4 separate regions of the Homo sapiens genome follow, and all the other regions are linked to region 1. The links come from fine-mapping of genetic effects on gene expression. A gene starts in region 1. Each other region holds a variant in brackets. All regions are shown on one strand. Distances are between the middles of the regions. Region 1 holds the start of ATG16L2 (autophagy related 16 like 2). Region 2 overlaps FCHSD2 (FCH and double SH3 domains 2). Region 3 holds the start of STARD10 (StAR related lipid transfer domain containing 10). Region 4 overlaps FCHSD2 (FCH and double SH3 domains 2).

Region 1 (8,105 bases):
AGAGCCATTAACTTCGTCCTGGGAAGATGGAAGCCAGCAAGCCAGTAAAGGAAAAGGCAAGTCTCTAGAAATGAGCTGTCCATGACTCCTCTGCTCTAAGATTCCCCTAGGCCTTGGCCAAGGACCCTTCTCAAGAAGCACCTCCCAGTCAGGCGTGGTGGCTCACACCTGTGATCCCAGCACTTTGGGAGGCCGAGGTGGAAGGATCACAAGATCAAGAGATCGAGACCATCCTGGCCAACATGGTGAAACCCCGTCTCTACTAAAAATACAAATATTAGCCGGGGGTGGTGGTGCACGTTCCAGGAGGCTGAGGCAGGAGAATTGCTTGAACCCAGGAGGCAGAGGTTGCAGTGAGCTGAGATCACGCCACTGCACTCCAGCCTGGGTGACAGAGCCAGACTCCGTCTCAAAAAAAAAAAAGCAAAGCACCTCCCAACTCTGAGCCCCAACCTATTCCTGGTTCTCATCTTTACTCCCTCTTTGCAACAGGTAGCAAGACCCTTTCTTTAGGCATCAGGCAAGGAACAGGGAAATGGAAAAAGACTGAGAAAGGGAAAAGACATAAGTATAGGGGTGGGACGGGAAGGAGATGGGACAAATGCAGAGAGATGGACAAAGAAAGGTGGAGGGGAAAGAGATTCTAAACAGCTGTCCTGTGGGAAGGCCAAGGGCCTGCCTCCCCCACCACCCCCACCACCTCCACCACCCCCACCACCCCTGGGCAGCAGCCAAGGGCTGATGAGGCACTAGGGAGAGAATGAACCCAGCACAGGCAGCAGGGGCAGGGCCCCAGCACAGGCAGCCCTTTGTGACCACGGACCCACATACACTTACCAGGGGCCCTGGTGGGTGGTGGGAGTGACACTGTTTGGCTCCGGCTGCAGCTTCTTTGAGAACTTGTCCAGCAGCTCAGCCTTCTCTAAGAGATGGTTATCTGGAGAGTGCAAGAGAGTGAGCCTGGGGCAGAGACAGATACCCAGCAGCCCCCTGGCATGCAATTTATCTCCGGCTAAAAGGGCTGAAGGAGCCCAGAGATGCTAGGGATGGGGAAGCTTCTGGCAGGCTGGCCTCTGCCCTGTGCCTGAGGGGCATCTGTGCAGTTCTACAGGACCTTCAGCCCTAGCAGTGTCCTCATAGCACCGGTCCCCAGGCCCACGTGGAAGAGGACCTGCTCTCCCAGGGACAGAAGGATGACCACTGCGGGGTACTGCCCGCTGAGGGTCCTGAGGGAAGGAAGGGGCCTGGGATTGATTCATCCCTGCCTCAGAGCAAGGCTTAGCCCCAGAAAGTGATGAAATAAACCGAGCTCTACCTGTCAATGGCCTTTGGCAAGTCACTTCCCCTCCAAGGGCTCTAGCTTTCTGCACTTAAAAATAATCCCCAGCCGGGCGCGGTGGCTCACACCTGAATTCCCAGCGCTCTGGGAGGCCGAGGCGGGCGGATCACGAGGTCAGGAGATCGAGACCATCCTGGCTAACACGGTGAAACCCCCATCTCTACTAAAAAATACAAAAAATTAGCCAGGCGTGGTGGCAGGCGCCTGTAGTCCCAGCTACTCGGGAGGCTGAGACGGGAGACAGGCGTGAACTTGGGAGGCAGAGCTTGCAGTGAGCGGAGATCACACCACTGCACTCCAGCCTGGGCAACAGAGCAAAGACTCCATCTCAAATAAATAAATAAATAAATAATCCCAACTTCCCCAGCCCTGGTGTAAGGTACCCCCAGGCCAGAATAGAAAGTCCTTGAGCAATTATCCAGCCGACATTCTGGAGGTTGGTGGTTTGACCCTGGAACACCCTCCCCCATCAACAGTCACTTCCTCTTTTCTCACCAGTTCCAGGGGAGGGTGGGGTGGTAAGTCCGGGCCTAGCTCCCTCCTCATCAACTTCCTTCCCACACTCAGTGCCCTGTCACCTTGACTGAGGCCCTGGGCCTGGCCTAGTTCTCATGAAAACCCCACCTCAGCCCCCAGGGTACTGCAGCACCCAGCAAACCTAAAGAAGGTCTCTATACCCAATTAACAAGTAAGAAGACTGAGGCTTAGCGATGTGATCTGCCCAAGGTTTCAAGACTGGCCCTTCAGTCTGATTTCAGCCCTCCAGATCTCTCTAGTCCCTCAGACTCACAGCTCCCTGGGTCGGGGCGGGGGGCAGGGGTTGGGGGGGCGGTGACCCCCTCCCTCAAACTGGACGGTTCCACTGTCTGTCTGAGCAGTGGAGAAGTGTGGCTGCTGGAGGTGGGGGCTGGCCTCGCAACCCTGAAGGTAGAGGACCAGCAGCCTGGAAGCTTGCAGAGAAATTTTCCTGGCTAAGAGCAGATTTGATTGTGGGGGTTTGGCCAAGATTAGCCCCAGTGAGAGAGCCGCAGGGATTGTGGTTAGACTTCCAACCACAGACATACAATCGCAGGCGGCCAGAGGTGCGACACACAGGCACACCTGTTCATCCCCTCTTGAAATGCCACACCCTATCCTGACCAGCTGCCCAGAAACAATTCTGAGAGTCCGACTTCGCTGGGCTCAGCCAGCATCCACCAGCAGCCCGGGGCCCCCTGATGCCCCCTCAGGCTGGGTAGGCTGACAGGGAGGTGTTCCATAAGCCTGTGCCAGCGTCGCCTGTCAGCGGCAGAGCCTGAGATGCACAGCCTCCTCCTTAGAGGTTCCGAGTGTCGCCCCTCTCCGGATGGGCCAATAAGTGGCTGCTCTGGACAAGTCCCGCGTTCTTTCACTGCGCTACCGAGACTAAGTGCACTGATCAAGCCCCTACCCCGGGGACTGCCCGGGTGGGGAGGCAAAAGAGACCCTGCAAAACCAACACCCGAGGACGCACTTGCGTCTCGGAAGCCCAGCTTGTGGGAGGCAGAGCCCGTCCTGAGGGGCGACGAGGGCAGGGGGACCAGGAGGGGCTCGTCCAGGTTCTAACCAGAGCCTGGATGGCAAGGGGCGGAGTCCTGGCAGTCGGGATGGGCGTAACGCACAGGCTCAAGGCATAAGGCACAGCGCACTCGGGTCACAGGCGGAGGAGCCAGCCAAACCCTCTCCCCGCGCCCGTAGCCGCGTCCCCTCAGCCGCCATCCTCTCAGCACCGGGGCGCACTCACAGGCCGGCACCAGCTCCAGGAAAAGCGCCTTTTGCGTACGGTCCCGAAGCCGCAGCTGCCGCACGATGTGGCGTTTCCAGCGCGCTGCGGGGGCACCGGGGACGCCCGGCCCCGCCATGGCCGCGCTCTCCCGCCTAGCGGCGCGTTCCTCCCGCCCAGGACGGCGCCAGGCCGGGGCGGGGCCTCGCGGGGACTCCGTGACGCCAGGGGGCGGGCGGCGGCGGGGAATCCCCGGCTTGTCCCAAGAGGGCTTTGGCGGGGAGGACCGAAGGCCGACGCCGGGAGGATCTGCCTCCGGGAGGAGCCGCCTCCGGGTCTGAACCGCCGGGGCCCCGTCCGAAATGTTCACCTAAGTGGGGGCTCCTGTGGCTGCGAGGGTCATAAGCAGGAGCGAGGTCGGAGCCTCCGGGGAGGCTTCCCCCACGCGGGTGGAGCGCTCCGGAGGCGGGGCCCTCAAGGCCCGGGTGTCTTAACCCCGCCGCGCCCGGGCCGAGTTCGAGAGCCGCTGGTGCTTCCCAGGCCGTCGCGCTCCTGGCCGCGCACCCAGCCAGGGACCCAGAGGCCCTCAGCCCCGGGCTCTGCGCGTACACTGAGGGCGCGGCGCAGCAGGACAGCAAGATAAGGAAGCAGAGACTGAAGGGAGGAATCCCCGCTTTCCGGGGATGATGGCGTTCGAGTTGGGTCTGTGAGGGATGAAATAGGAGTTGGCCAGAGGGAGAGAGGGACTCTAGGCCTCGAGAAGAGCACGTGCAGAGGTTCCGTGACACGAAAACGCCAGGTGGGTGCGGGGCTGGGAGGACAGGAGGCAGAAGGGTTTACGGCTCCACATGGTCGCCGAAATTTTAGGTCCCTGAGAGTAAAGGGGTGCAGCTGATTTCATCTAGAAAGCCCCTGGCCGGGAGGAGAGAACGAGCTTGCTTGCCTGGGGTTGCAAAGGAGTGGGTAGCTGAGACGGCCAGCACCCCAGCATCCTGACTCAGGGCCAGACGCTTCACCCCATTGGGCGGCGTCTGGAGGAGCAGACACATCTCTTGTGGGTACCCTCGAAAGTGAATCATGGGTCGCAGGGAACTGTGGTCAAACCGTCTCTAGCTAGATGCTAGAGAGCCAGCTCTGCAGGCTCAGGCTACTGTGAGACACGAAAGGAGGGACTCGCTGGGCACAGCCTCACCCTGGGGCATGCCAGCAGGCCCTGCCCTCTGAGTGTTGGCAGACTTGAACATCCCTAGGGAACGAGAGAAGTTGGGCAACGATGGGAGAGCAGTGCAGGCCCTGGAGGTGACGAGTCTGTTGAGATTCTGATGGGGATGGGTCAGAGGACGTAGAAAGCAGTGAAGGCCTAGACGCCCCCAGGTCAGTGTAGCCTGCTCTGCTTCCAGTGAGCTGGGCTCAGTCCCCCACATGTCATTGTCTTAGACGCCCATGGCCTTTGCACAGGCCGAGCCTGATGTTTGGAACATCGTCGCCTCTAGGGGGCCTGGCTCCTAATCATGCATCACCTCCTCCAGGAGAACTTTCCTGCCCCTACACTGAGTTCAAGCTTCTCAGACACCAGCCCCAGTTGAGTTCGAGTTATAACCGTCACCAGTTATCACACCATCCTGTAATCTGTGCGGTGCCCCTTAGGGCAGGACCTGGGTCCTAGATGTCTCTGTACCTCTAGCCCCAAACCAGGCCTGACCTGTCTCTTGAAGGAGTATTTGTGTTGAAGATGGGTGGTAACGTTCAGCAAAAGCCATGCCCAGGAGACAGGCACAGTACCCATGGAGACCCAGGGCCAGCTGATGACAGTGATGAATTCCCTTTAGAACTGGCGGACTCTTGGGTGCTTGGAGACACTATATAAATAAGGAACTCTGGCTGTGTGCATGGGAGAGTATATTAACAGGGCTTGGCCTGGCTGTGAGGTGCAGAGATGCCGTTTCTCTCAGGTAAGGAGCCATATTGGGGCAGGGGTTTCCTAATCCTTTTTTGACTCACAAAATACACCTAGGAAATGTTAAATAAATAGTCATTTTTGAGTAGTATATGATAAAGAAGTGATTGATTTTGACTAAAAATATTCATGTTCTATTTTTAGAATATGAAAGATTGTATTATAAAGATCACTTGAAATAAAATTTTAGATAATATATGGAGACAAATTTCTGCTTTTTACATTTAACTTGCTGTTTAATGTATCTCAAATTATTTATGTAAGAGATATATGATTTGACCAATAAATATAAAAAAATGTTATACCATAATCTGGGGACCTAAAGTACTTCACTTTTTTTGTTCTGTTTTGTTTTTGAGACAGGGTCTCTCTCTGTTGCCCAGGCTGGAGTGCAGTGGCCCAATCATGGCTCACTGCAGCCTCATCCTCCTGGGATTAAATGATTCTTCCACCTCAGTCTCCCGAGTAGCTGAGACTACAGGCACATGCCACTATCGCTGGTTTTGTTGTTGTTTTGTTTTGTTTTGTTTTTTGAGACAGAGTCTCTGTTACCCAGGCTGGAGTGCAGTGGCACAATCTCGGTTCATTGCAACCGCCTCCTCCCGGGTTCAAGCGATTCTCATGCATCCGCCTTCCGAATAGGTGGGATTACAGGCATGCGTCACCACACCCAGCTAATTTTTGTACTTTTAGTAGAGACAGGGTTTCACCATGTTGGCCAGGCTGATCTCCAGCTCCTGACCTCAAGTGATCCACCCGCCTCAAGCCTCCCAAAGTGCTGGGACTACAGGTGTGAGTCACCGTGCCCAGCCGCCCAGCTCATTTTAAATTTTTCTTGTAAAGACAAGGTCTCACTATGTTGCCCAGGCTGGTCTCTAATTCCTGGGCTCAAGCAATCCTCCTGCCTTGGCATCCCAAGTGCTAGCATTACAGGCATGAGCTACTGCACCTGGCCCTAAAGTACTTAAAATGTAATTTAAAATTTGCACCTGGGAGGCCAGACACGGTGGCTCACACCTGTAATCCCAGCACTTTGGGAGGCCAAGGCAGGTGGATCACAAGGTCAGGAGTTCAAGACCAGCCTGGCCAGCATAGTGAAACCCCATCTCTACTAAAAATACCCAAAAAAAAGCCAGGCTTGGTGGTGGGCGTCTGTAATCCCAACTACTCAGGAGGCTAAGGCAGAGAATTGCTTGAATCCGGGAGGCAGAGGTTGCAATGAGCTGAGATCGCACCACTGCACTCCAGCCTGGTGACAGAGCGAGACTCCATCTCAAAAAAAAAAAAAAAAAAAAAAAAAAAAGTGCACCTGGGTTAGGCATCTCCCAGAAGCCAGAGTGATTGTTCAAAAACTTAAATCAGGCCAGGCACGGTGTCTCACACCTGTAATCCCAGCACTTTGGGAGGCCACGGTGGGCAGATCACCTGAGGTCGGGACTTTGAGACCAGCCTGACCAACATGGAGAAACCCCGTCTCTACTAAAAATACAAAAATTATCCAGGCATGGTGGCGCACGCCTGTAATCCCAGCTACTTGGGAGGCTGAGGCAGGAGAATCACTTGAACCCAGGAAGCAGAGGTTTCAGTGAGCCAAGATTGCGCCACTGCACTCCAGCCTGAGCAACAGAACAAGACTGTCTCAAAAACAAAAACAAAAATCTTAAGTCATCTCAAGTTCCTCTTGCTTAAAACCCTTGAAAGGCTCTCCAGCATAGTCAAAGCAAATACCAAACCCTTTACCATGGCCTTCAAGGCCCTGCTTGATCTGGCCCCTGCCCACATCACTGATCTTACCTCTTCCTACTCTTTAGCCTTATTCACTGCACTGAAATCCCACTGCCAAGCTTAGCCCCACCTTGGAGGCTTTGCCCTGGCTGCACCCCTCTCCTAGTGCTCTTCCTCCACAACTTTTAGAGGCTAGCTCCTACATACCAGGCAGATTTCAGAAGACCTTTCCTGTCATCCAATCTGAAAAAGCTCCCATCCCAATCAGCGTCTATCACATCACCCTTGTTCTTCCTTTCAGAGCACCTAATACTCCCAGAAAGAATCACATTTCTGTGTTTGCTAGTTGTTTATTATGTCTCTTCTACCAGGCTGGGAACTTCAGGAAAGCCAGGACCAAGTCAATCTTGATCTAGGCTCTGTCTTCAGCATCTAGAACCAGGCTTGGCACCAACTGAGTAGGTAATCCGTAAATAAATTGCTGTTGCTGTGTATCAAAAAGAAAAAACCAAAGTTTGCATGGTCCAGTGCTTAGAAGTTTTGAAATAAAAAATGTAGCTATTTTTTGGCTGGGTATAGTGGCTCACGCCTGTAATCCCAGCACTTTGGGAGTCCGAGGCGGTGGATCACCTGAAGTCAGGAGTTCGAGACCAGCCTGGCCGACATAGTGAAACCACGTCTCTACTAAAAATACAAAAATTAGCCGGGAGTGGTGGCAGGTGCCTATAATCCTAGCTGCTTGGGAGGCTGAGCGGGGAGAATCACTTGAACCTGGGAGGCAGAAGTGGCAGTGAGCTGAGATCGTGCCATTGCACTCCAGCCTGGGCGAAAGAGCAAGACTCAGTTTAAAAAAAAAAAAAGTAGCTATTTTTTAAATTGGAAAACCAATCACATGCACATAGCAAAGAATTGAAATAGTACAAAAGTGAGCCTGTTTGCCTCACACCTTCATATTGATCAGGATAGGACAGGCTGGTCTGTGGTTACAGTGATTTCTTTTTTTTTTTTTTTCTTCCAGAGATGGAGTCTCGCTCTGTCTCCCAGTCTGGAGTGCAGTGGCATGATCTTGGCAATCTGGGCTCACTGCAACCTCCGCCTCCCAGATTCAAGCAATTCTCCTGCCTCAGCCTCCCGAGTAGCTGGGACTACAGGCACACGCTGCCACACCTGGCTAATTTTTTGTATTTTAGTAGAGACAGGGTTTCACCACGTTGCCCAGGCTGGTCTCAAACTCCTGAGCTCAGGCAATCTGCTCGCCTCAGCCTCCCAAAGTGCTAGGATTACAGGCGTGAGCCACCGCACCTGGCAGTACAGTGATTTCTAATATTGCCCATGACTGTTGG
Region 2 (8,105 bases), 220 kb before region 1:
ATAAACAGTGATTCTGCAATTATTATGGAGACTTAAGTAATATTAGAAAGAAGTAAGGAGATACACTTGGAAGATACTAAGTTGATACAACTTGATAGAAGATTATGAATACTAGGCTGGGGGTCATTACAGAAGTCAAGCCAAAAAAATGTACTGGAAAAAGAACACTAAAGTGGGAGGCATGTCATAATTTATATGGATATTGGCCTTATTACTTGGTGACAGATCTTTTTTTTCAACTTTTATTTTAGAATCAGGGGAATACATGTACAGGTTTGTTACAAAAATATATTGCATGATGCCGAGGTTTGGAGTATGAATGAATCTATCACCCAGGTAGTGAGCATGCCTAATTATTTTTTCAACCCTTGCCCCTGCCTCACTCCCTGCTCTTGGATTCCCTAGTGTTTATTATTCCCATGTTTATGTCCATTTGTATTCAATGTTTAGCTCCCACTTAGATATGAGAACATGTGGTATTTGGTTTTCTGTTTCTGTGTTAGTTTGCTTAGGATAATCGTTGCCAGCTACATTCATGTTGCTACAAAGGACAAGATTTCATTCTTTTCATGGCTGCATAGTATCCACGCTGTATATGTACCACAGGTGCCCATCAGTGGTGAGTGATCTTGAGTCACTGCCCATTTTTCTTGATCTGAGAGGATTCGACTGGATAAATTATAAGGTCCCTTTAAGAATCAATCAGTCATCAGAATTTCTTTTCCTTTTTTTTTTTTTTTCTTAAAGAGACAGGGTCTTACTCTGTCACCCAGGCTGGAGTGCAGTGGCACAATCATAGCTCACTGCAGCTTCAAACTCCTGGGCTCAAGCGATCTTCCCATTTCAGCCTCCTGAGTAGTTGAGACTAGAGGCATGCACTACCACGCCCAGTTAATTTTTAAATTTTTTAATAGAGACAGATCTCCTTGTTGCCTAGGCTTGGCTTGAACTCCTGGCCTCAAGCAATCTTCCCACCTCGTCATAAGAATTTTTTAGTGATAGATGGTTTTGTTTTTAATATTTCAGCTGGAAAACTATTTTAGCATCTAGCAGAAGACTTGTTTGTGGAAAAAGCTTGACTTGGTGAATCTTTTCATCAGAGTAATCCCTATGTTTCACATATTTCATATAAAAATAAAATAAGTTTCCCACTCTTTAGTGTGAAATTGGTGAGGGATTGGATATAAAAGGTTATGCTCTGGATATCCCAGAGAACTGCCTTCTTCTTTTCCTAAAGTTGTCCACTATGTTTGAGGTTCTGCTCTATGCATAACAAGTGTGATTGCTTTTGGAGGGTTACAAGGTAATGAGGACTCCTATATTCAGAATGTAAAACCCATTTGACAAAGTAAGATAGGTATGCATAAAAGTTACAAATATATACTATCAATAGGGCTATATCTGACTTATATGATTAAATGGCCACATTCATAACATAATCAGTATGGGCCCTAAGTTTTTAGGAAAACATGGTAAGTGGGATTAGAATATCTAAAGACGACAAGAATATTGTGTGGATATGGAGAAAGAATGCATTCTATACCAGAGAAAGGCTGCTATCAAAAACTCAGAGGCAAAAAATAATTTTGGGCATAATTATGAGATAGTAAAAAGATCAGTAGTTGCCAGAAGTTGAGGATGAAGGGGAAGGGACAAATAGCAGAGCACAGGGGATTTTTAGGGCAGTGAAAATAACTCCCTATGATACTGTAATGATGGATATGTCACTATATGTTTGTCCAGACACATAGACTGTACAGCACTAAGAATCCTAGTGTAAACCATGGACTTCAGATGACTGTGTTATGTGTCAGTGTAGGTTCATCCATTGTAAATGTACCACTGTGGTGGGGGATGTTGTTAATGGGGAGGCTATGCATGTGTGGGGGCAAGTGATACATGGGAACTCTCTGTACCTTTCTCTCAATTTTGCCATGAACCTAAAACTGTTCTAAAAAATATGAAGTCTGTAATTTTTAAAAAATGTGAGTATCAAGAGAAGAATATAATAGAATTCTATAAATATCTTCCAGGTGATGAATATGCTCAAAGTCATATGCTCTTGAATTGATATCAGTATTTGGCAGTCCCTATCTGTGTGAAGACATTTGCAAAGATGAAATATTTAAAATCTAATTACAGATCCGCGTTAACAGATGAACGTTTGTAATGGATTTTGATGGTAGGGAACACTAACTTTGAATTTCAATTAAGCAGAATATGTGTATTACAGAAAATTGTACTCAGTTTTTAAAATTTTATCAATAAAAAGTTTGAGGAAAAAATTATGAGTGAACACAATATTTGTGGAGGAAGACTTCTTGAGGGTTGAAATGTTAGTACCTTGTATATAGTAGAAGTTAGGCTTTGTTACACGGATGAATAAATACACAAATAAAATTACCTATTACTCATTGGACTCAGTAAGATACCCAAAGTAGAACTAAAATTTATAGACTTGATTCTACATTTAATAATGACATTGAAAGTTTTTAATCACAGTAATCATGATTATAATTTATCAGGGACTTGCAGTATGCTAGTCATTGTACTCATCATTAAATTTAGGTTTCATTATTATGCCCATTTTACAGTTGAGGAAACTAAAGCTCAAAGTGACTAATGAAATTATTTTCAGTGTCAATTTATAAATAAATAGTAGAGCTTGGATTTGAACCCACATTTATTTGACTCCAAAGACCGATATAACGTTGTGAAATATTGTACAAAATAGTGATTATGAAGCTTGGGTTTTTTTTTTTTGTCTTTTATTTCCTATACTTCTTTGGTTGTTTCTTACCCTTCACACATTTCAAAATTATTATGTTGGCTCCAATACTTTAATGTTTCTAATTGTATATTTTTCTTCCTTTAAAACCTGCCCACAGGTCAACTCCACTGGGAAGCTTGGAAGTCAAATGACCCATGTTCTAATCCCAGTTTTACTACTGGTTCACTTTGAGCCCTGTCCAAGCCAGTCTACTCTTAGCCTTTAGTTTTTTCAACTAAAAGTAAGAAGTTTGCTTAAATATTTGATCATTCTTGTTTTAACAACATTAATAAAAACTGGGCGAGGAGTGGTGGCTCACGCTTGTAATCCCAGCACTTTGGGAGGCTGAGGTAGGCGGATCACAAGGTCAAGAGATTGAGACCATCTTGGCCAACATGGTGAAACCCTGTCTCTATTAAAAATACAAAAATTAGCTGGGTGTGGTGGTGCACGCCTGTAGTCTCAGCTACTCGGGAGGCTGAGGCAGGAGAATTGCTTGAATCTGGGAGGCAGAGGTTGCAGTGAGCCAAGATCGCGCCACTGTACTCCAGCCTGGTGACAGAGCGAGACTCCATCTCAAATAAATAAATAAATAAATAAATAAATAAATAAATAAATA[AAAAC/C]TGAACATTTCAGTACTGTTCAGTACTTAAAATAGCATTTGGCATATTGTAGAAAATTCTCAGTAAGTACTTATTGAATAGATGAAGGTATTAAGCACTTAATGTATGCCATACATTGGGCCAAGTGCTTTATAAACACTGACTCATTTGCTTAGCAACAATGAAGTAGGTACTATAACTATCTTTATTTCTGAGATGAGGACATCCAAGATAAAAACAAGTTAATGGCCAGGCGCAGTGGCTCATGCCTGTAATCCCAGCACTTCGGGAGGCCAAAGGTGGGTGGATTGCTTGAGCTTAGGAGTTCGAGAACAGCCGGGCAACATGATGAGACCCCCGTCTCTACAAAAAATACAAGCCAGGAGTAGTGGTGCGTGCCTGTAGTGCCAGCTACTCTCTTGAGCCTGGTGGGTGTGGAGGTTGCAAGTGAGCCAAGATCGCGCCACTGCGCTCCAACCTGGGTGACAGAGCGAGACCTTGTCTTAGTACGTACATACATACATACATACATACATACATACATACATACATACATACATACATAAAAATAAAAACTAAAAACAAGTTAAATAACTTGTCAAGGTCCAGGAGTTAAACCTGAGAATGTGTGTCTGTGCTCTTAACCAGTATACTAGTTGTTCCCAATAGTGGCTGCATATCAGAATCACCTGTGAAGTTTGTTAAACTATCAGTGTCTCAGCCCCACCTCTAGAGTCTGACTCAGCAGGTGACATTTATCCTATAGTACTTTAGCTGCCTGTGGAGTGACCTTTTTAAAGGTACTACTTTGCACCCAGAGGATTTTCAGTTGTGTTGTTGACAGACAGATTGACAGTCTTGGTTCTTTTGACTTTTAGTCCTTCTATAATTTATTTTCTTTTGCTGCTTCGAAGTTCTGGTCAAAATTCACCTGATCCTTAATAAGTAAATTGCAATGCTCTATTTACTTTTACTTTAAAATTTGCAGGTCATTTTGTGCAAATAAGTTTATTGAAGTTGAAAAAAATTGGGAAACTTCAACAATGTAGGCGATGTAGTATCAAGAGTTAAAGCTTACTTTGACTGACTTTTTCTTTACTATGAGTATAAATTTGCTGAGTTCTGAGTATTGTGTTTTATTGATGTGGTTCCTAACTTGAGATGTTTTCACAAGAGTGGAAACTTTGATCTCTATTTCCTTGGTACAGGCTCAGCCTCTGGTACCGAATTTTAACATTAGTAACAGTTTCTGGTGTGTAATCATTTGTGTTTTAGGTTAGACAGCTGGAAATTGCTTCTTTCAGGAAGAGGAACGTTTTTGCATGTTTGTGTGCTACCAAAGTCAAATCAGACAGGCTACATGAGAATTTCTAGCTTCATGTTTTGAAGTAGGTGTGAGCACTTGGTCTTAAAAGGCTTTTAAAAAATTCCACTTTAACGTATCTGTAAATATATTTAAAGAAAAACCTTAAAGGGGAGGGAGAGCATTAGGACAAATACCTAATGCATGTAGGGCTTAAAACCTAGATGATGGGTGGATGGGTGCAGCAAACCACCACGGCACATGTATACATATGTAACAAACCTCCACATTCTGCACATGTATCCCAGAACTTAAAGTATAATAAAAATAATTTTTTAAAAAAGAAAAACTTTAGAAAGAAAAAAGCAACTCTTAAAAAAAGATGATATATTTGCTATCGGTATTAAAATTGTCTATTATATTTTCATGATTTCTATTCGTAATAACATGATAAATAAAATTTCTTTAAAACAACATTATTGAATGTTTCTGTGTCATAAGCGTTGTTTACCATCATGTTTCAACTTCAAGTCACGTCATCAAATAGGTAAATACAGTATACTAGTTGTTAACTGGGATGTGGGAAAAAACCTACTTAACCTAGTTAGCTTGGTGTCTTATCCAAGAATACTCATAACTAATTCACAGCAAAGGCAGTACAGTACTCAAACTCAAGTGTTGACTTCAAAGTCCTGGTCTTTTTACTATTGCCAATAACCATAAATTATATAAATTTGTATAGAATTCCATAGTTTGAGTATTTAATTAACATAGTTTTATCCTGGTTTGGGAGTGTGGATATGCTTGTAGTTGCTTCATATCTTTTAATGTTAGAGGAATATTCTTGTGGAAGATGTCTTGTGTAGCGCCCTATAATTCCTCCATTTCTGTGCTACATCTAGTAGATCTAAAATGTGAGGGGTCAGAGTATGTTTATAAGCGGAGACCTTAGAGATTACCTGTTTCTGTCTCTTCTGTTCATAATTCTAAAATTCTTTGCACTAAAACTTGTCCCATTTACATCTCTTTGCCTCCATACTGTGCATATCATCTTTGGACAGGACTAGAGTGGTAGCCTCCTATGGGTCTCCCTGACTGTAGTCTAACTACTTTTTTTTTTTTTTTGAGTCGGAATCTCGCTCTGTTGCCCAGGCTGGAGTGCAGTGGCGCGATCTCAGCTCACTGCAACCTCCGCCTCCCGGGTTTATGCCATTCTCCTGCCTCAGCCTCCCGAGTAGCTGGAACTACAGGTGCCCGCCACCATGCCCAGCTAATTTTTTATATTTTTAGTAGAGACGGGGTTTCACCATGTTAGCCAGGATGGTCTCGATCTCCTGACCTCATGATCCGCATGCCTCAGCCCCCCAAAGTGCTGGGATTACAGGTGTGAGCCACCGCACCCGGCCAATCTAAGTACTCTTAATCCATGTTTCCCACACTGCAGCTAGAATGATTTTTAAATCACATTTTAGTCTGATAATGGCACTGCACTGCTCGCAAGCTTGATTTCCTGTTGTCTTAAGGTAGTCCAAACATAAATCCTTGTGTGATATAGCCCTTACTTATTCAGTCTCACCTTTAAGCCATTCTCCCTTTTACAAGCTCCATGCCAGCTTGTATGAAGTTTCTTGAAGGGGCTATGTTCCCACTTGCACCCCACCTCTCGTTACAGGCTCTTTTTTTTTAGATGTCAATTTTCATTTCCTTTGGGGAAGCCTTCCCTGACTCGATCTCTCTGCTTTATGTTCCCATATACTTTCCTGTTGTAATACCTACACCAAATGGTGACTTCTTGAGTTTTTCCTCTTTGTTGTGCTTTTTTTTTTTCAGTTAGGAAGGTAATAAACATTTGCTTTAAAAATACTGAGCAATTAAGTGATAGAAATAGGCCAAGCATGGTGGCTCACACCTGTAATCCTAGCACCTTGGGATGCCAAGTCGGGAGAATCACTTAAGGCCAGGAGTTTGAGACCAACCTTGGCAATAAAGTGAGACCCTGTCTCTATAAAAAAATTAAAAAAATTAACCAGGCAATGCACACCTGTAATATTAGTTTCTTGGGAAGCCGAGGTGGGAAGATCGCTTAAGCCCAGGTATTTGAGGCTGCAGTGAACAATGATTGTGCTGTTGTACTCCAGCCCGGGCAACAGAGTGAGACCCCATCTCTTAAAATAAAAAAACATTGAACAATCCAGTGGTATAAAGAATAAAAACTAAAAGCTCTTACTTTTGAACCTCATTTCCAAGTTCATATGTATTCTAGAGTATATATGCTTACATGTTTTTTAAATTAAAATAGGACCGTGCTATTCATTTTTCTGCAGCTTATATATTTTTATTAAATATTTGAGACTATATAGCACATTCTCTTTAATAATTGTGTAACATTGCAGCATACTGATGACCATAATTTAGTTAATAGTTCCTCTTGGTGGATATTAATTTTTTAAATTAATCCCTGGCAGAATATACATACCAGAAGAACATTGATAATACCCATAATGTTTATTGCTATTCCCCCAGCATCTAATACAGTGCCTTCCCTATAGAAAGCACTTAATAAAACTTGTTAAGCAATGCATATGCCTTTTCCAGGCGAAAAGGCTGCTGTGCCAGCTCTTACCTGATTTGTGTTGGTTACCTGTAATGTATCAGTTCATATCAATGGTGAGAAATAGAATAACGGGAGTGTGGACTGGCCTTGGAGTCAGAAGGCTTGGGTTGGATTCCTGGGTATAAGCAGTGTTGGTTAATATGGTCCTTTGTTGGTCAGATTCTAATAGGATACTTACTACATTCAGTTTAAGTGAAGATCGAACAACATAATGCATATACAAATACTTTGTAAGTGTAACACCCAGTACAAATGTTGGCATTACTGTCTCCCTCCCCGTTCCTGGTAACCACTGCTTTATTCTCTCTCTGTCTCTCTTTTTTTTTCGGAGACAGGGTCTTGTTCTGTCACCCAGGCTGGAGTGCAGTAGTCACAACTCAATGCAGCCTCCACCTCCCGCCCTCAAGTGATCCTCCCACCTCAGCCTCCCGAGTAGCTGGGACTACAGGCACACACCACCACACCAGGCTAATTTTTATAATTTTTGATAGAGACAGGGTTTCGTTATGTTGCCCAGGCTGGTCTCAAACTTGGCTCTAGCAATCCACCTGCCTCAGCCTCCTAAAGTGCTAGAATTACAGATGTGAGCCACCGTGCCCGGCCTTTATTCTCTATTTATTCAAGTTTTTTTATTTTTTTAGATTCCATATATAACAGATCAAATAGTAGTCGTCTTCTTTCTATCTGGCTTATTTCACTTAACATATTCTGGATGAACCCATCCAGATTCATACATGTTGTGACAAATAGCAGGATCTCCCTTTTTTTTAAGGCTGAATAGTATTTCTGGAGGTGTGCGTCAATGTGTGTGTGTAT
Region 3 (8,105 bases), 19 kb after region 1:
ATATGGATGGAAGTGAATGAGGTCATCCCAAAAAAGTGTGCAGAGTAAAGAGAGGGTCTGTGGCAGACCTGGAGGACACCAGTATTTCAGGCTGTCCTAGCCCAATCAGCCAAGACCACCAAGGAACAAACCCATGGTTTGATGAAGTCAGGTTTCTTGTCCCCTTGTAATGAGACAGACAGCACACTGGAGAAACCAAGGAGTGTCCCACTAAGCACAAAGGAAGATAGTTTTACAGGGTTTGGGAGGGGGTGGAGATGAGGTGAAATTTAAATGAAGCAATATTTTGATAGGCTCAAAGCAAAGCAGAACTGTGTATAAAGGGGCTGGCATCAGTTCTGGACTGCCACAGGACCTACAGTCCTGTTTCTTTGGAAAAAATAAGATAGATGTAGAATATTGTGTTCAAAACTTCCTTACCTGGATCTCTGTACCTGCATTATAAACCCTGTCTATTTAGTGACTTAGATCTTCCAAGCAAGTGTTTTTCTTTTTCTTTTTCTTTTTTTTTTTTTTTTTTGAGCTGGAGTTTCACTCTGTCACCAAGGCTGGAGTACAGTGGCATGATCTCAGCTCACTGCAACCTCTGTCTCCCGGGTTCAAGCAGTTCTCCTGCCTCAGCCTCGAGTAGCTGGGACTATAGGCACGTGTCACCATGCCCAGCTAATTTTTGTATTTTTAGTAGAGACAGGGTTTCGCTATGTTGGCCAGGCTGGTCTCGAACTCCTGACCTCGAGTGACCTGCCCATCTCAGCCTCCCCAAAGTGCTGGGATTACAGGCATGAGCCACAGCACCCGGCCTCATTCTTATTCATATAATTTTTAAAAAATTGTTTTTTTTTTTGAGACAGAGTCTCACTCTGTTGCCCAGGCCAGAGTGCAGAGTGCAGTGGCACAATCTCGGCTCACTGCAACCTCCACCTCCCAGGCTCAAGCGATTCTCCTGCCTCAGCCTCCTAAGTAGCTGGGATTACAGGTGTGCACCACCATGCCTGACTAATTTTTGTATTTTTGGTAGAGACAAGTTTTCGCCATGTTGGCCAGGCTGGTCTCGAACTCCTGGCCTCGAGTGATCCCCATGCCTTGGCCTCTGAAAGTGTTGGGATTACAAGCGTGAGCCACTGCACCCGGCCTATTAATACAATTTTGTAAACCAAAAAGTACCTGAGACAGGTCTCTATCAGTTTAGAGATTTATTTTACCATGGTTGAGGACAAACCTGGGAAAGAGACAACAGCCACAGTAGAATCTGTGGCCCATACTTTTTTTCCAAAGAGGAGTTTGAGACCAGGTGGGGTGGTTCACGCCTGTAATCCCAGCACTTTGGGAGGCAAGGCAGGAGGATCCCTTGAACTCAAGAGTTTGAGACCAGCCTGGGCAACATGGCGTAACCCTGTCTCTACAAAAATCACAAAAAATTAGGCTGGGCGCGGTGGCTCACACCTGCAATTCCAGCACTTTGGGAGGCCAAGGCAGGGGGATCACCTGAGGTCAGGAGTTTGAGACCAGCCTGGCCACCATGGTGAAACCCCATCTCTACTAAAAATACAAAAATTAGGCCAGGCATGATGGCTCACGCCTGTAATCCCAGCACTTTGGGAGGCCGAGGTGGGTGGATCATGAGATCGGGAGTTCGTGACCAGCCTGACCAACAGCGTGAAACCTCGTCTCTAAAAAAATACAAAAAAAAAAATTGCTGGGCATGGTGGTGAGCACCTGTAATCCCAGCTACTCAGGAGGCTGAGGCGGGAGAATCTCTTGAACCCAGGAGGCAGAGGTTGCAGTGAGCCAAGATCACGACACTGCACTCCAGCCTGAGCGACAGAGCAAGACTCCTTCTCAAAAAAAAAAAAAAAATTAGCTGGGCGTGTTGGTGTGCGCCTGTAATCTCAGCTACTTGGGAGGCTGAAGTAGAAGAATCCCTTGAACCTGGCAGGCGGAGGTTGCAGTGAGCCAAGATCGTTGCAGTGAGCCACTGCACTCCAGCCAGGGTGACAGAATAAGACTCCATCTAAAAAAAAAAAAAAAAAAGGCAAAACATAATTAAAGTGAGAATTAAAAAAAAATTAGCCAGGTGTAGTGGTGTGTGCCTATAAACACAGCTACTCAGGAGGTTGAGGTGGGAGAATAGATTGAGCCCAGGAGGTCCAGGCTGCAGTGAACAATGGTCTTGCCTCCAGCCTGGGTGACAGAATGAGACCCTGTCTCAAAAAAACAAAAACAAGGCCGGGCACAGTGGCTCACACCTGTAATCCCAGCACTTTGGGAGGCCGAGGTGGGCGGATCACACGGTCAGGAGATCGAGACCATCCTGGCTAACACGGTGAAACCCCATCTCTACTAAAAAAATACAAAAAAAAAAATTAGCCCGGCGTGGTGGCGGGTGCCTGTAGACCCAGCTACTCAGGAGGCTGAGGCAGGAGAATGGCATGAACCCGGGAGGCGGAGCTGGCAGTGAGCCCCAGATCATGCCACTGCACTCCAGCCTAGATGACAGAGCAAGTCTCCGTCTCAAAAAAAAAAACAAAAAACAAAAAAAAAACCACAAACGAACAGCCCCTGCCCTCCCCCCAAAAAAGACAAACTGCATCTCACACACAGGTGACCCCTGTGAATACAGTCTCTGAGGAGTGATGGAAGAGGAAGCCCTGTGAGAGGTGCAGACTGCTACCCTCTAGAACACCAGGATGCCTAAATAGTAGAGGGCAGTTTCATTAGCGACATCAGTTTGCAAACTGAAAAGAGACACTCTCCTGTAGGTACCAAAGGTGCTCTCTCTTTGTATAGGGAAAAGGCAGGCTGGTTGTTTTTTGTTTTTGTTTTTTGAGACGGAGTCTCGCTCAGTCGCCCAGGCTGGAATGCAGTGGTGCGATCTCGGCTCACTGCAACCTCCACCTCCCAGGTTCATGCCATTCTCCTGCCTCAGCCTCCCGAGTAGCTGGGACTACAGGCGCCCGCCACCACACCCAGCTAATTTTTTTGTATTTTTAGTAGAGACGGGGTTTCACCATGTTAGCCAGGATGGTCTCAATCTTCTGACCTCGTGATCCGCCCGTCTTGGCCTCCCAAAGTGCTGGGATTACAGGCGTGAGCCACCACTCCCGGCCTAGGCTGGTTTATGACTCACAGGGTCTGTATTTCACAATAATCATACATATTCAGCAGGTTTTGGGGAAAAGCTATACATATTTATGAGGGGATGTGAGTGCATGCACAATGGGTAAACACCTGTAACATATGTTCCATGTTCACTTTGGGATGGGGTTTTTGCGTTAAAGTGAGGTGGAATTTGGTTCTTTGCATCATAAGGTGGACTATAGGACACAAACACAGTTTGCGTGCAGTCTCTATGAGCTTGCTGAAACTGGCCTGAGGTCTGCAGTTACTTATCAGGAAAGAATGTTTGTAAGGCCTGTCCTCTGTCGATCAGCGTTGTAGTGGTCTGAGTTGTAAATCTCAGTAAAGAAGAGTCTGACAATTTGCATGATAGCTCCTATTGCTAGGGGTTTAGTAAGAGTGTGGTTTTTCTGGCAGCAGTAGAAATTTAAGAAGTTGCCATGCCAGCTGACAGCTGAGCCCTGAGGTAGGCAACGTTTGTTTCCTTAACCTTAACCTTAAGGTCCATCGTAGTTGATAAAAAGGCATCTGGCCAGGCCTGATGGCTCACGCCTATAATCCCAGCACTTTGGGAGGGTGAGGCGGGAGGCCAGCAGTTCTGGGGCCACTGCACTCCAGCCTGACAGACAGAGACCCTGTCTCAAAAAATAAATAAATAAAAAAGATAAAGGGGCATTTGTCTTGATCGCTCAGATCACACAACTAATAAGTAGCATTCTTTCTAAAAGCCGCAACAATGCTACTCCTCTCTTATAAGAGCTACTGTGTAACTCCTGCCCAACTCAAACCCACAGGCCCAGGCTCAGAACACTTGGCTCCATTGCTTCACTGTTTCCCTGCTAGCACGAACCCCCCAAACTCCATCTCCCAACATGCCGCGGGCCCCCTTTCTGTCAGCCTGACTCTTGAGCTCCTGAGAAATGTAGTTTTTCCAGCGGCCCAGCCCCAGAAAGGTCCTAGCCAAGAACTACAGTTCCCATGTGGCAATGCGCGCGCCATTCCGGTGGAATTCACCGCGGTCTCCAGTTTGCCATGATGGATGCCAGAACCTGCACGTGGGGCTTGGTGACGCGATGACTGAGATGCTGGAGTCCCCGGTCAGAAGGACGATGCCGAGCGCGCCGTATTTTCTCCTGCCTCTCCTCAGATCGCCGCCGTTGTTGGGCTGTGGAGACGTCTCAACCAAAGTGGAGCCGACAGA[G/A]GCCCCGGGAGCCGTGGTGACAGAGCGGCCACAACCACTAGGGGGCGGGAGGCAGAGCGGCCCCTAGTCCGCCCCTAGTCCGGGACCTCTGGGCGGTCCCGGGCGGGAAGCGCACGCGCAAACGCGGGGCTTCGCGGCCGCTGTAAACACCAAAGAGCGCCTGCGCAAGCCGAGAGTCTCGGGATCGACACGTGGGGGCGCCTGAGCGAAGATAACCGTAATAAATAGTAACCTAACGGTCCAGTCATCGTTCTGTGGTCCTTTCTTTTATGATTCACAAGGAATGACCCTCTTCATCGCCTCTCCTAATTCAGTCCTCACAACAGTCCTTTTACAAATGGGACAACAGGTTAGAGGAAGTCAGGCAGATTTCCAGCATCATAGAGAGTAAAGGACCAGGGAAGGATCAGGATTCAAGGACTGCACCCAGGCTCTGCTTCCAGCTTGCTGTGTGACTTTGGGTAATTTTGTTCCCTTAGGGAACTGAGCTTTCTCATTTGTAAATGCAAACAGGCTGTTGGGAGGATCAAATGAGATCCAGGGGTGAAAACAGCTTAGTTTACTTTCAGGAATTTACCCACGCGGTATATAAAGGCAAAATATTATTATAGTCAGGTGATTGTAGATTGAGGAACCCATTTCCTCATTCTGCAAATTGCAAACCTGAGGGCCCAAAGAGGGACAGGGGCTTGCCCCAGGTCTCAGCAGGCTGTGAGCAAGAGCTAAAGCCTAATCCTCCTGCCTTTGGGCCTGGAGCCCTTCCTTGTACCCCAGGGGTCAGTGTCTTTGTTGGATACAGGCTTAGATTGACTGACTGTACCCTGAGAACCTAGGGGAGTCCCTGTTCCCAATTCTTCTCCTACCCCCACCTTGGCCTGATGGAGGAAGACCCTGCTGTGTTGAGATGAGCACCAGAGCCAAGAAGCTGAGGAGGATCTGGAGAATTCTGGAGGAAGAGGAGAGTGTTGCTGGAGCTGTACAGACCCTGCTTCTCAGGTCAGTGGCCCAAGTAAGGGAAAGAACCCAGGTGTGACAGATGAGGGGGCAGCACTAAGGGGACAGACTCTGAATGGAAAGGAGTGGGAAGGCAGTGGACACTGTTTCTGAGCTTGGGAGGAATTGGGTACTCAGGTAACTCCATCTGGGGGCAGTGGAGCTGGAGGTGATACCTGGGCTGGCCTGGCTGATGAGAAGGGGAAGTGATGCGCATTGAGCTGAGGTCTAGGAGCCACTCCCCAGCCAGGTGAAGCGAGGTGGCACCTAGGCACACCATGGCACCTGCAGGATCATGCAGCTAACCCCAGGGAAGGGGACTTTTCTCTGACCCTTGGAGCGGTGGAGCTGGGCTGTATGCAGCTGATTCTCTCTAGAGTGCTCTTAGAGGTTTTGGGGGTAGGTTGGGGGAAGGGCTGGGAGACCCTGAGGTCTCATTACAGATTGGGCCTCCCCAGGCAAGTCATGAAAGGCAGGTATATGTAGAAATAGAAATCCAAGATCCTTCAAGATATCCCAGATAGGCCAGGCACGGTGGCTCACGCCTGTAATCTCAGCACTTTGGGAGGCTGAGGCGAGCGGATCACCTGAGGTTGGGGGTTGAGATCAGCCTGACCAAAGTGGAGAAACTCCATCTCTACTAAAAATACAAAAAAAAAAATTAACCGGGCGTTGTGGCGGGCACCTGTAGTCCCAGCTACTCGGGAGGCTGGGGCAGGAGAATGGCGTGAACCCGGGAGACGGAGCTTGCGGTGAGCCGAGATGGCGCCACTGTACTCCAGCCTGGCTGACAGAGTAAGACTCTGTCTCAAAAAAAAAAAAAAAAAAAAAAAAAATTAGCCAGGTGTGGTGGTGTATGCCGGTAGTCCCAGCTACTCGGGAGGCTGAGGCAGAAGAATCGCTTGAACCCAGGAGGCGGAGGTTGTCGTGGGCCGAGATGGTGCCATTGCACTCCAGCCTGGGCAACAAGAACGAAACTCCGTCTCAAAACAAAACAAAACAAAACAAAACACAACAACAAAAAGGTATCCAAGATAATTCAATGGAATTATCTGGAGGTGGATCTTGGATTCACCTCCAAGCATTTAATTATCTGGGCCTTCACTTATCATTTCTGTTTTTCAGCCAGAGAAACTGAGGCTAAAGAAGGAAAAGGACCTCTTTTTTTTTTTTTGAGACGGAATTTCACTCTTGTTGCCCAGGCTGGAGTGCAAGGGTGCGATCTTGGCTCACTGCAACCTCCGCCTCCTGGGTTTAAGCAATTCTCCTGCCTCAGCCTGCCAAGTAGCTGGGATTACAGGTGCCCACTACCATGCCTGGCTAATTTTTTGTATTTTTAGTAGAGACACGGTTTCACCATGTTGGCCAGGCTGGTCTCAAACTCCTGACCTCAGGTGATCCATTCGCGGCCTCCCAAAGTGCTGGGATTATGGGCATGAGTCACCACGCCCGGCCAGAAAAGGACTCTATTAAGGACACACAAGGAGTTGGGGTAGAACTGGACTACGACAGGGATCTTTCCATTACATGGCAGTAGTCAAACATCTTCATCAAACATTTATTTAGTGTCTAATGTATACTCCGAGAAGGACTACCTTGGGGTAGCAAATAGAAGCCAGGATTGCCCTCAGACCTGGCTTTTAACCAGCCCTCCCAGTGATTTAAGACTGTGACCCCAGGTGAGTCCCTGCCCCTCTCTGAGCCTCAAATTGTCTGTAAAGTGGGGATGCTAAGCCTTGGGACTGTCTCAATGTTTACCTATAAATTAAATGAGTTAAGACCTGTTATCAAGGTTTACCTATAAATTAAATGAGTTAAGACCTGTTAAGTGCATAGACCAGCACCAGGCCCGTGGTAAGCATTCAGTAACTGTTAGCCACTGTTGTTACTTGTGAACACAGGTCGAGGCAGGCCGCAGATGGGGTTCTCCAAAAGTCAATGCAGGGGCAGAGAAGCAGCAGCCCCAGGTCTGACCATCTCTAGATACCTCCACACCCTGCCCTGGGTGCCTGCATTTCTGAAAGTCAAGGGAGGACCCATGTCCCCATCTCCTCCTCCAGTTCTGGGAAGCTGGCAGGGGAGAAATGTCTCGAGTGTTTACACCTGCACATGCACATGATTCTCTTCCCCACAACCTGAGGCCAAGAGTGAAGATGGTTTTTACTCAAAGCTACACATTACAGCCCTGGACAGTCAGACCAGAACAAGATCCTGGGCTCTTTCTGGCCCTTTCAGGGTGTGGGGTTGTGCATGAGCTTCCTCCCTGCATGGCAGAAGTCCATGAATGCTAACAGCAGGTTCTTGGTCCTCGTTTCCCCTCATGGAGCAGGGGCTGGGGGAAGAGGGGCGCCTGGGTGGGAGACAGGGCCTGACATCAGATACCCCCCCGGCCCACCTTGTTAGTAGTTGGAGGCCTGGCCCTGTGCTCACTTTAGCTCTGTTTCAAGCTTCCCTAATGGAAGTCTGGTTCAAACTCCTTATTTATAGAGGAGGAAAGAGAATCCCAGAGAGGCCAGAACTCACTGAGAGCCCCACGGCGAGGTAAGCGTGAGTCTGGTCCAGAACTCAAGCCTCCTGACTTCAGGTGAGGGCTCTGCCCACAGCCACATGGGAGGGGGCAGGGCTTGATTCCACCTCTCCTCCCCCCACTACCCTCATAGTCATGCTTGGAGCCAGCTCCCAATGTAGCCACCTGGGTGGGCTGTGGTTTGCAGGGAGGGTTGGGAAGATGGAGAGGTAAGGGAAGGAGAGTACAGGGCCCAGTCGGGAGAAACCCAGGGCCGGTCTGGGGCGA
Region 4 (8,105 bases), 130 kb before region 1:
AGATTAGTGGTTGCCAGGCACAGGGGGAGAGGGCACTGACTACTTAATGGCTATAAAGTTTTCTTTTCTTTTCTTTTCTTTTCTTTTTCTTTCCTTTCTTTTCTTTTCTTTCTTTCTTTGAGATGGAGTTTTGCTCTTTGGTGCCCAGGCTAGAGTGCAGTGGCATGATCTCGGCTCACTGTAACCTCTGCCTCCAGGGTTCAAGTGATTCTCCTGTCTCAGCCTCCTGAGTAGCTGTGATTACAGGCACCCACCACCACGCCCAGCTAATTTTTGTGTTTTTAGTAGAGACAGGGTTTCACCATGTTGGTCAGGCTGGCCTTGAACTCCTGACCTCAGGTGATCTGCCCGCCATGGGCCTCCCAAAGTGCTGGGATTACAGGCGTGAGCCACCACGCCCGGCCAGGTTTCTTTTTGTGGTGATAAAAATGTTCTGGAATTAGGTAATGGTGATGGTTGCACAACTTTGTGAATATACTAAAAGCCACTGCATTGTATACTTTAAAATGATTAACTTAATGGTGTGTGACTAATATCTCAATAAAAAATAAGACTAGTGACTGTGAAAATCTAGCATCCCACCAGTAATCAAAGAAATGAAAATTATGCTGGGTGCTGTGGCTCATGCCTGTAATCCCAGCACTTTGGGAGGCCGAGGTGGGCAGATCACGAGGTCAGGAGATCCAGACCATCCTAGCTAACGTGGTGAAACCCCATCTCTACTAAAAATATAAAAAATTAGCCAGGCGTAGTGGCGGGCACCTGTAGTCCCAGCTACTCGGGAGACTGAGGCAGGAGAATGTTGTGAACCTGGGAGATGGAGCTTGCAGTGAGCCGAGATTGTGCCACTGCACTCCAGCCTGGGCGACAGAGCGAGACTGCCTCTCAAAAAAAAAAAAGAAATGAAAATTATGACAATGTTAATCTTAATTGTATCCATTAAAATGGTAAGTTAAAATTTTGTTAATACACTCATATTCTATTATTGATAATGTAAATTGATACAGTTGTTTTGGAGGACTTAATTGGTAATATGTATCAAATGCTTTAAAATAAACTATATTCTTTGTCTCAGAAATTATGTTGTAAGAATTTATTCTAAGGATATAATAAATATCTATTATGATATTTGTCTACATGCTTGATGATGACAATGAGATTAAAAATGGAAAGCAACTAAAATGTTGAAAAATGAAACATTCAGTAATTTTGAAGTAATTGAAATGTTTCATAATAAGCAGCCAATAATTTATGATATCCAGTGGCTGGGCACAGTGGCTCACGCTTGTAATCCCAGCATTTTGGGAGGCTGAGGTGGGTGGATTGCTTGAGTCCAGGAGTTCAAGACCAGCCTGGCCAACATGGCAAAACCCCATCTCTACTAAAAATACAAAAATTTGCCAGGTCTGGTGGCACATGCCTGTAATCCCAGCTACTCAGGAGGCTGAGACAGAAGAATTACTTGAAACCCAGAGGTGGAGGTTGCAGTGAGCCGAGATCGCACCACTGCACTCCAGCCTGGGTGACAGAGTGAGACTTTGTCTCAAAAAAACAAAACAAAACAGACAAACAAAAAATGTATGATACCCAAACGATGTCATAAAAATTATGTTGTATAAGATTATACCATTATAGTGCCATGAAAAATGTTAACACTGTATTAACTGATTAAAATGAGAATCATAAATAATATGTAAAATATAGTCTTGAATTTGTTTTTAAAGTCTGTTTTATAAGTTAATGTTCCCATATTTATGTGAGATTACCTGTGATTTTTGTTTTCTTTGGATTTTTCTGTATTTAATTTTCTTTATGAGAAAATTATGTTTTCAATATTTTTTTTAACTAATGATTTTATCACACTGTAATTTATAATCAGAAATCTATGAACTAACTTTTGGGAGATTTAAAGTAAGGGCTGTTCCAACAGAATGTGCTGGAGGATGGGAGTTCCTACACGTCCATTAGGACCAGCAATATAGTGGTGTGGCTATTAATCTTTCATTATAATATACCCATTTCTTGCTAGACTCAGTGACTCTGGTTGATTAGTTCATTGCTTAGAATAAGATCTTGTGGTCAATTCCTATGTGAGTCAAGTAAACACTGACTTTGGCTTTAGTTCTAGTCAGACAACTTGTAAGTGTGTATCACAAGTCAGAGGGGACACTACATGGGAGAGCATAAGTGGATTTTTGTAGATCAACCATTGTTGTGGGAAAACCTCTTCAGTTCTGCTCCTCTTGGCCAGATGTGGGCCTGAGTGTGAGTCTGGATAAGAAGAGTTCAAACTTCTCTTGTGACACACAGCATTTCTTACCCAGGGGAAGTTTAAATAAATTTGAACATAAAACCTAGGTCTTCCACTTGGTTTAAAGCCCTTAACTAAGAAATAAGATATATTGGAAAATGCTTCGTACCTACAGCATTGTTGTTAAGAGATGTTGGCCCCATGGGGCATGCAGCTGTTAAACCAGAGTGACTCCCAGACCCAGTGATGTGAGTCTCATTTTCTTGGACCTGAATCTCACCTGGGGCCTGGGAAAGCAGGCTGGGACACAAGGAGAATAGCTCTTGGGTAGCTGGGTGAGCTATTGCATAGATGGCTGCAAAGACTAGTCCCACAAAGAGGGGCACCTGGTGCTGCCTTGTTGGCAGGCAGTCATTTTTGTCCTACATCCTTGTGAGTAGTCTTGTGAATATGAATGTTTACTTAAGCTTGAAAAATTTCCCTAGGCATTATACTTAACATCTTGGGACTCAGTTTCCTGCTCTGTAAAATGAAAATGTTGTCTACCTTAAAGGTGGTTGTAAAAAGTAGAGTTACTGCACAAAGCTCCTAGAATATAATAGATATTCTGTAAATGGTAGCTATTACTCTGTTTATACCATCGTATTTTAAAGGTAAAATATGCTAGATACTTCCACAATACCTATTTTACAGACTTGCATTAGAGGATATTGGCAGGTATTGACATTTTGAGCATTGTAATTATTGACCATGTAATTGTCTAGTTTTTTTTAAATTATACTTTAAGTTTTAGGGTACGTGTGCACAACGTGCAGGTTAGTTACATATGTATACATGTGCCATGTTGGTGTGCTGCACCCAGTAACTCATCATTTAACATTAGGTATATCTCCAAATGCTATCCCTCCCCCCTCCCCCACCCCACAACAGGCCCTGGTGTGTGATGTTCCCCTTCCTATGTCCATGTGTTCTCATTGTTCAATTCCCACCTATGAGTGAGAACATGTGGTGTTTGGTTTTTTGTCCTTGCGATAGTCTGCTGAGAATGATGGTTTCCAGCTTCATCCATGTCCTTACAAAGGACATGAACTCATCATTTTTTATGGCTGCATAGTATTCCATGGTGTATATGTGCCACATTTTCTTAATCCAGTCTATCATTGTTGGACATTTGGGTTGGTTCCAAGTCTTTCCTATTTTGAATAGTGCCACAATAAACATATGTATGCATGTGTCTTTATAGCAGCATGATTTATAATCCTTTGAGTATATACTCGGTAATGGAATGGCTGGGTCAAATGGTATTTCTAGTTCTAGATCCCTGAGGAATCGCCACACTGACTTCCACAATGGTTGAACTAGTTTACAGTCCCACCAACAGTGTAAAAGTGTTCCTATTTCTCCACATCCCCTCCAGCACCAGTTGTTTCCTGACTTTCTAATGATCGCCATTCTAACTGGTGTGAGATGGTATCTCATTGTGGTTTTGATTTGCATTTCTCTGATGTCCATTGATGATGAGCATTTTTTCATGTATCGTTTGGCTGCATAAATGTCTTCTTTTGAGAAGTGTCTGTTCATATCCTTTGCCCACTTTTTGATGGGGTTGTTTTTTTCTTGTAAATTTGTTTGAGTTCATTGTAGATTCTAGATATTAGCCCTTTGTCAGATGAGTAGATTGCAAAAATATTCTCCCATTCTGTAGGTTGCCTGTTCACTCTGATGGTAGTTCCTTTTGCTGTGCAGAAGCTCTTTAGTTTAATTAGATCCCATTTGTCAATTTTGGCTTTTGTTGCCATTGCTTTTGGTGTTTTAGACATGAAGTCCTTGCCCATGCCTATGTCCTGAATGGTATTGCCTAGCTTTTATTCTAGGGTTTTTATGGTTTTAGATCTAACATTTAAGTCTTTAACCCATCTTGAATTAATTTTTGTATAAGGTGTAAGGAAGGGATCCAGTTTCAGCTTTCTACATATGGCTAGCCAGTATTCCCAGCACCATTTATTAAATAGGGAATCGTTTCCCCATTTCTTGTTTTTGTCAGGTTTGTCAAAGATCAGATAGTTGTAGATATGCGGCATTATTTCTGAGGGCTCTGTTCTGTTCCATTGGTCTATATCTCTGTTTTGGTACCAGTACCATGCTGTTTGGTTACTGTAGCCTTGTAGTATAGTTTGAAGTCAGGTAGTGTGATGCCTCCAGCTTTGTTCTTTTGGCTTAGGATTGACTTGGCAATGCAGGCTCTTTTTTGGTCCCATATGAATTTTAAAGTAGTTTTTTCCAATTCTGTGAGAAAGTCATTGGTAGCTTGATGAGGATGGCATTGAATCTATAATTTACCTTGGGCAGTATGGCCATTTTCACGATATTGATTCTTCCTACCCGTGAGCATGGAATGTTCTTCCATTTGTTTGTATCCTTTTTTATTTCATTGAGCAGTGGTTTGTAGTTCTCCTTGAAGAGGTCCTTCACATCCCTTGTAAGTTGGATTCCTAGGTATTTTATTCTCTTTGAGGCAGTCGTGAATGGGAGTTCACTCATGATTTGGCTCTCTGTTTGTCTGTTATTGGTATATAAGAATGCTTGTGATTTTTGCACATCGATTTTGTATCCTGAGACTTTGCTGAAGTTGCCTATCAGCTTAAGGAGATTTTGAGCTGAGACAATGGGGTTTTCTAGATATACAATCATGTCATCTACAAACAGGGACAATTTGACTTCCTCTTTTCCTAATTAAATACTCTTTATTTCCTTCTCCTGCCTGATTGCCCTGGCCAGAACTTCCAACACTATGTTGAATAGGAGTGGTGAGAG[A/G]GGGCATCCCTGTCTTGTGCCAGTTTTCAAAGGGAATGCTTCCAGTTTTTGCCCATTCAGTATGATATTGGCTGTGAGTTTGTCATAGATAGTTCTTATTATTTTGAGATACGTCCCATCAATACCTAATTTATTGAGAGTTTTTAGAATGAAGCGTTGTTGAATTTTGTCAAAGGCCTTTTCTGCATCTATTGAGATAATCATATGGTTTTTGTCGTTGGTTCTGTTTATATGCTGGATTATGTTTATTGATTTGAGTATGTTGAACCAGCCTTGCATCCCAGGGATGAAGCCCACTTGATCATGGTGGATAAGCTTTTTGATGTGCTGCTCGATTCAGTTTGCCAGTATTTTATTGAGGATTTTTGCATCGATGTTCATCAGGGATATTGTTTTAAAATTCTCTTTTTTTGTTGTGTCTCTGCCAGGCTTTGGTATCAGGATGATGCTGGCCTCATAAAATGAGTTAGGGAGGATTCCCTCTTTTTCTATTCATTGGAATAGTTTTAGAAGTAATTGTGTTGTTTTACCTCCATGTCATGCAATAGAAGTTAAAGTTGGCAGCATCACAATGAATAATGATTAAAGTCTGAGTATTTAATAGTCAGTTTATCTTCATACGTTCTTAGTGTAGTAGTTTACAATATTTGAACATGCCTTAGAACAAATATTTAATTATAGATGTGCTAACTGAAACTTCTTGTAGTTAATGAACTAATAAAATATCAAAATACAATGTTTATGTATCTTATTCAGCAAGTATTTCTTGAATAAATACTAAGTGTGAGGTATCATTCTGAGTGCCTCAGTGAACAAAACAGCCAATATAATTTTATATTTTAAATATGTAAAACACTGAAACATATATGTTCAAAAGTCAAATAGACTGACCCAGGGAATTCTCACTTCCATTTCTGTGCCCTTCATCTCCGTCTCACCTGTCATTCTCTTCAATTTCCTTCCCTTTCATTAAAGCTATTAATAAATAACCAAGGTAATATGAAGTTCACATTTACTGTTTTCCCATAATCCATATTGTTCTGTGCTGTCTTTTTCCTGATTCAGTGTCTCACTAATCCTTTCCTACTCAAACCTCTCCATCAGACATCTTGGAATTCTATTCAGTAGTCCTCAGTTAATCCTAACTATAGTTGAATTAAGTAGGTTGAAGTTGAAGTAAGTGTTAAATGTAGATAGTAAATATAAAAGTCAGGGCTGGGCAAAGTAGGTCATGCCTGTAATCCCAGCACTTTGGGAGGTAGAGGTGGGCAGATCACATGAGGTCAGGAGTTCGAGACCAGCCTGGCTAACATGGGGAAACCCCATTTCTAATAAAAATACAAAAAATTAGCTGGGCATGGTGGCACGCGCCTGTAATCCTAGCTACTCAGGAGGCCAAGGAAGGAGAATCACTTGAACCCGGGAGGCGGAGGTTGTAGTGAGCCAAGATCGCACCATTGCACTCCAGCGTGAGCAACAAGAGCAAAACTCTGTCTCAAAAGAAAAAGTCAGTATTAATGAATTTGTGATTTAGCCAGGCATGGTGGCTCACACCTATAATCCCAGCACTTTGGGAAGTATGCACCTGTAGTCCTAACTACTTGGAAGCCTGAGGTGGGAGGATTCTGAAGTCCAAGAGTTTGAAGCTGCGAACTATGATCATACCACTGCACTCCAGCCTGGGTGATAGAGCGAGACCCTGTGTCTAAAAACAAAACAGTGAGATATGACTTCACATCCTCTAGGAGAGCCATAATAAAAATAAAATAAAATGAATAGCATAGCATATACCATAACATTCTATAGCATGTTTGTCAATACTTTTTAATTTTAATAAAGTATGTATTTTCCATTTGATTACCAAAGTACCAGAAGAAAATTTGAAAAGTACAGAAAACCTAAAGATAAATTAAAATAACTTCACATTGTAACAGTAAACCACTCTTACTGTCATCTTGGCATATCCTTCTAATCTTTCCTAGGCATGTATTACATATACATGTTTCAAAATTGTTATACACGTAAGTCCTTTTATTTTTTCACATAAAATACATTCTGAGCTATTCCTGCCTGTGTTAGCCCATTTACATTGGTTTAAAGAAATACACAAGGCTGGGTAATATAAAGAAAAGAGGTTTATTTTGGCTCACAGTCCTGCAGACTGTACAGGGAGCATGCTGCTGGCATCTGCTTCTGGTGAGGCCTCAGGAAACTTACAATCATGGCAGAAGGCAAAGTGGAAGCCTGCATGTCATATGGTGAGAGATGGAGCAAGAGAGGAGGGAGCTGCCAGGCTCTTTTAAACAGCCAGCTCTAGTGTGAACTTATAGAGTGAGAACGCTCTCATTACTGTGAGGACAGCAGCAAGTCATTCATGAGGGATCTGCTGCCATGACACAGACACCCCCTGCTAGGCCCACCTCCAACATTGGAGATCACATTTCGACATGAGATTTTGAGGGGACAAAACATTCAAACTGTATCACTGCCTTTACATGTTACTTGAAAATGTGATTTTAATGACTGCATAGTATTTGATCATATTAATATGCCATTAACTTTATTACTTTTTTATGCTTTTATAAACTTTTTTAATGCTTTTTAGTGAAGGTTCTTTTTTACAATCTTAATACACCTCTTTGATAACTTCCTTAAGATATCTTTTTTTGAAGCTACATTCCCTGGTCAAAAACAAAGATTGGTTAATACTTTTCATTTGGCTAGCTGATTGCCCTCTGAAAAGATTATATCAGTATATACTTCTGAAAGCAGTGTATGAAAGTGCCTATCCTTGCACCCTTGTCAAAACTGTATTTTATATTTAAACAAACGTACATATATGAGCAACAATCTGGATGAAGGTAAAGAAATCTTAATTTTTAATTTTTTGCTTACTAACAAATTGAACATTTTTATTTCATGTTGTTTAAACAACTCTTCTGACCAGTGATGAGTTAAAAGAAAAAATAGATCAATACAAGAACAAAACAGTTAATGATAAAGTAATAATAAGTAATATATTAATAGAGTTGGGAGTCTA

Evidence for each region.
Region 2: its variant is fine-mapped to the expression of ATG16L2 in whole blood (INTERVAL, PIP above 0.99).
Region 3: its variant is fine-mapped to the expression of ATG16L2 in whole blood (INTERVAL, PIP 0.93).
Region 4: its variant is fine-mapped to the expression of ATG16L2 in blood mononuclear cells (TOPMed, PIP 0.96).

Annotation. Positions count from the first base shown.
Region 1 is chr11:72,809,560-72,817,664 of GRCh38, reverse strand. ATG16L2 (autophagy related 16 like 2) reads right to left here and starts at 3,254. Exons shown (of 18, transcript NM_033388.2): 1 at 3,102-3,254; 2 at 838-937. The coding sequence starts at 3,219. It overlaps LOC107984421 (a long non-coding RNA gene), which reads left to right and starts at 3,598. Exons shown (of 3, transcript XR_007062771.1): 1 at 3,598-5,032. RefSeq lists enhancers at 2,482-2,631, 4,642-4,771, 4,932-4,991 and silencers at 3,162-3,611, 4,012-4,101.
Region 2 is chr11:73,030,983-73,039,087 of GRCh38, reverse strand. All of the region lies in intron 3 of FCHSD2 (FCH and double SH3 domains 2), which reads left to right. Among named protein-coding and RNA genes, the nearest start is that of FCHSD2, 110 kb to the left of the region's middle. The variant AAAAC/C (reference allele first, on the strand shown) is at 3,390.
Region 3 is chr11:72,790,084-72,798,188 of GRCh38, reverse strand. STARD10 (StAR related lipid transfer domain containing 10) reads left to right here and starts at 4,142. Exons shown (of 7, transcript NM_006645.3): 1 at 4,142-5,314. RefSeq lists enhancers at 1-7, 3,817-4,386, 5,518-6,017. The variant G/A (reference allele first, on the strand shown) is at 4,319.
Region 4 is chr11:72,941,466-72,949,570 of GRCh38, reverse strand. All of the region lies in intron 8 of FCHSD2 (FCH and double SH3 domains 2), which reads left to right. Among named protein-coding and RNA genes, the nearest start is that of ATG16L2, 130 kb to the right of the region's middle. The variant A/G (reference allele first, on the strand shown) is at 5,066.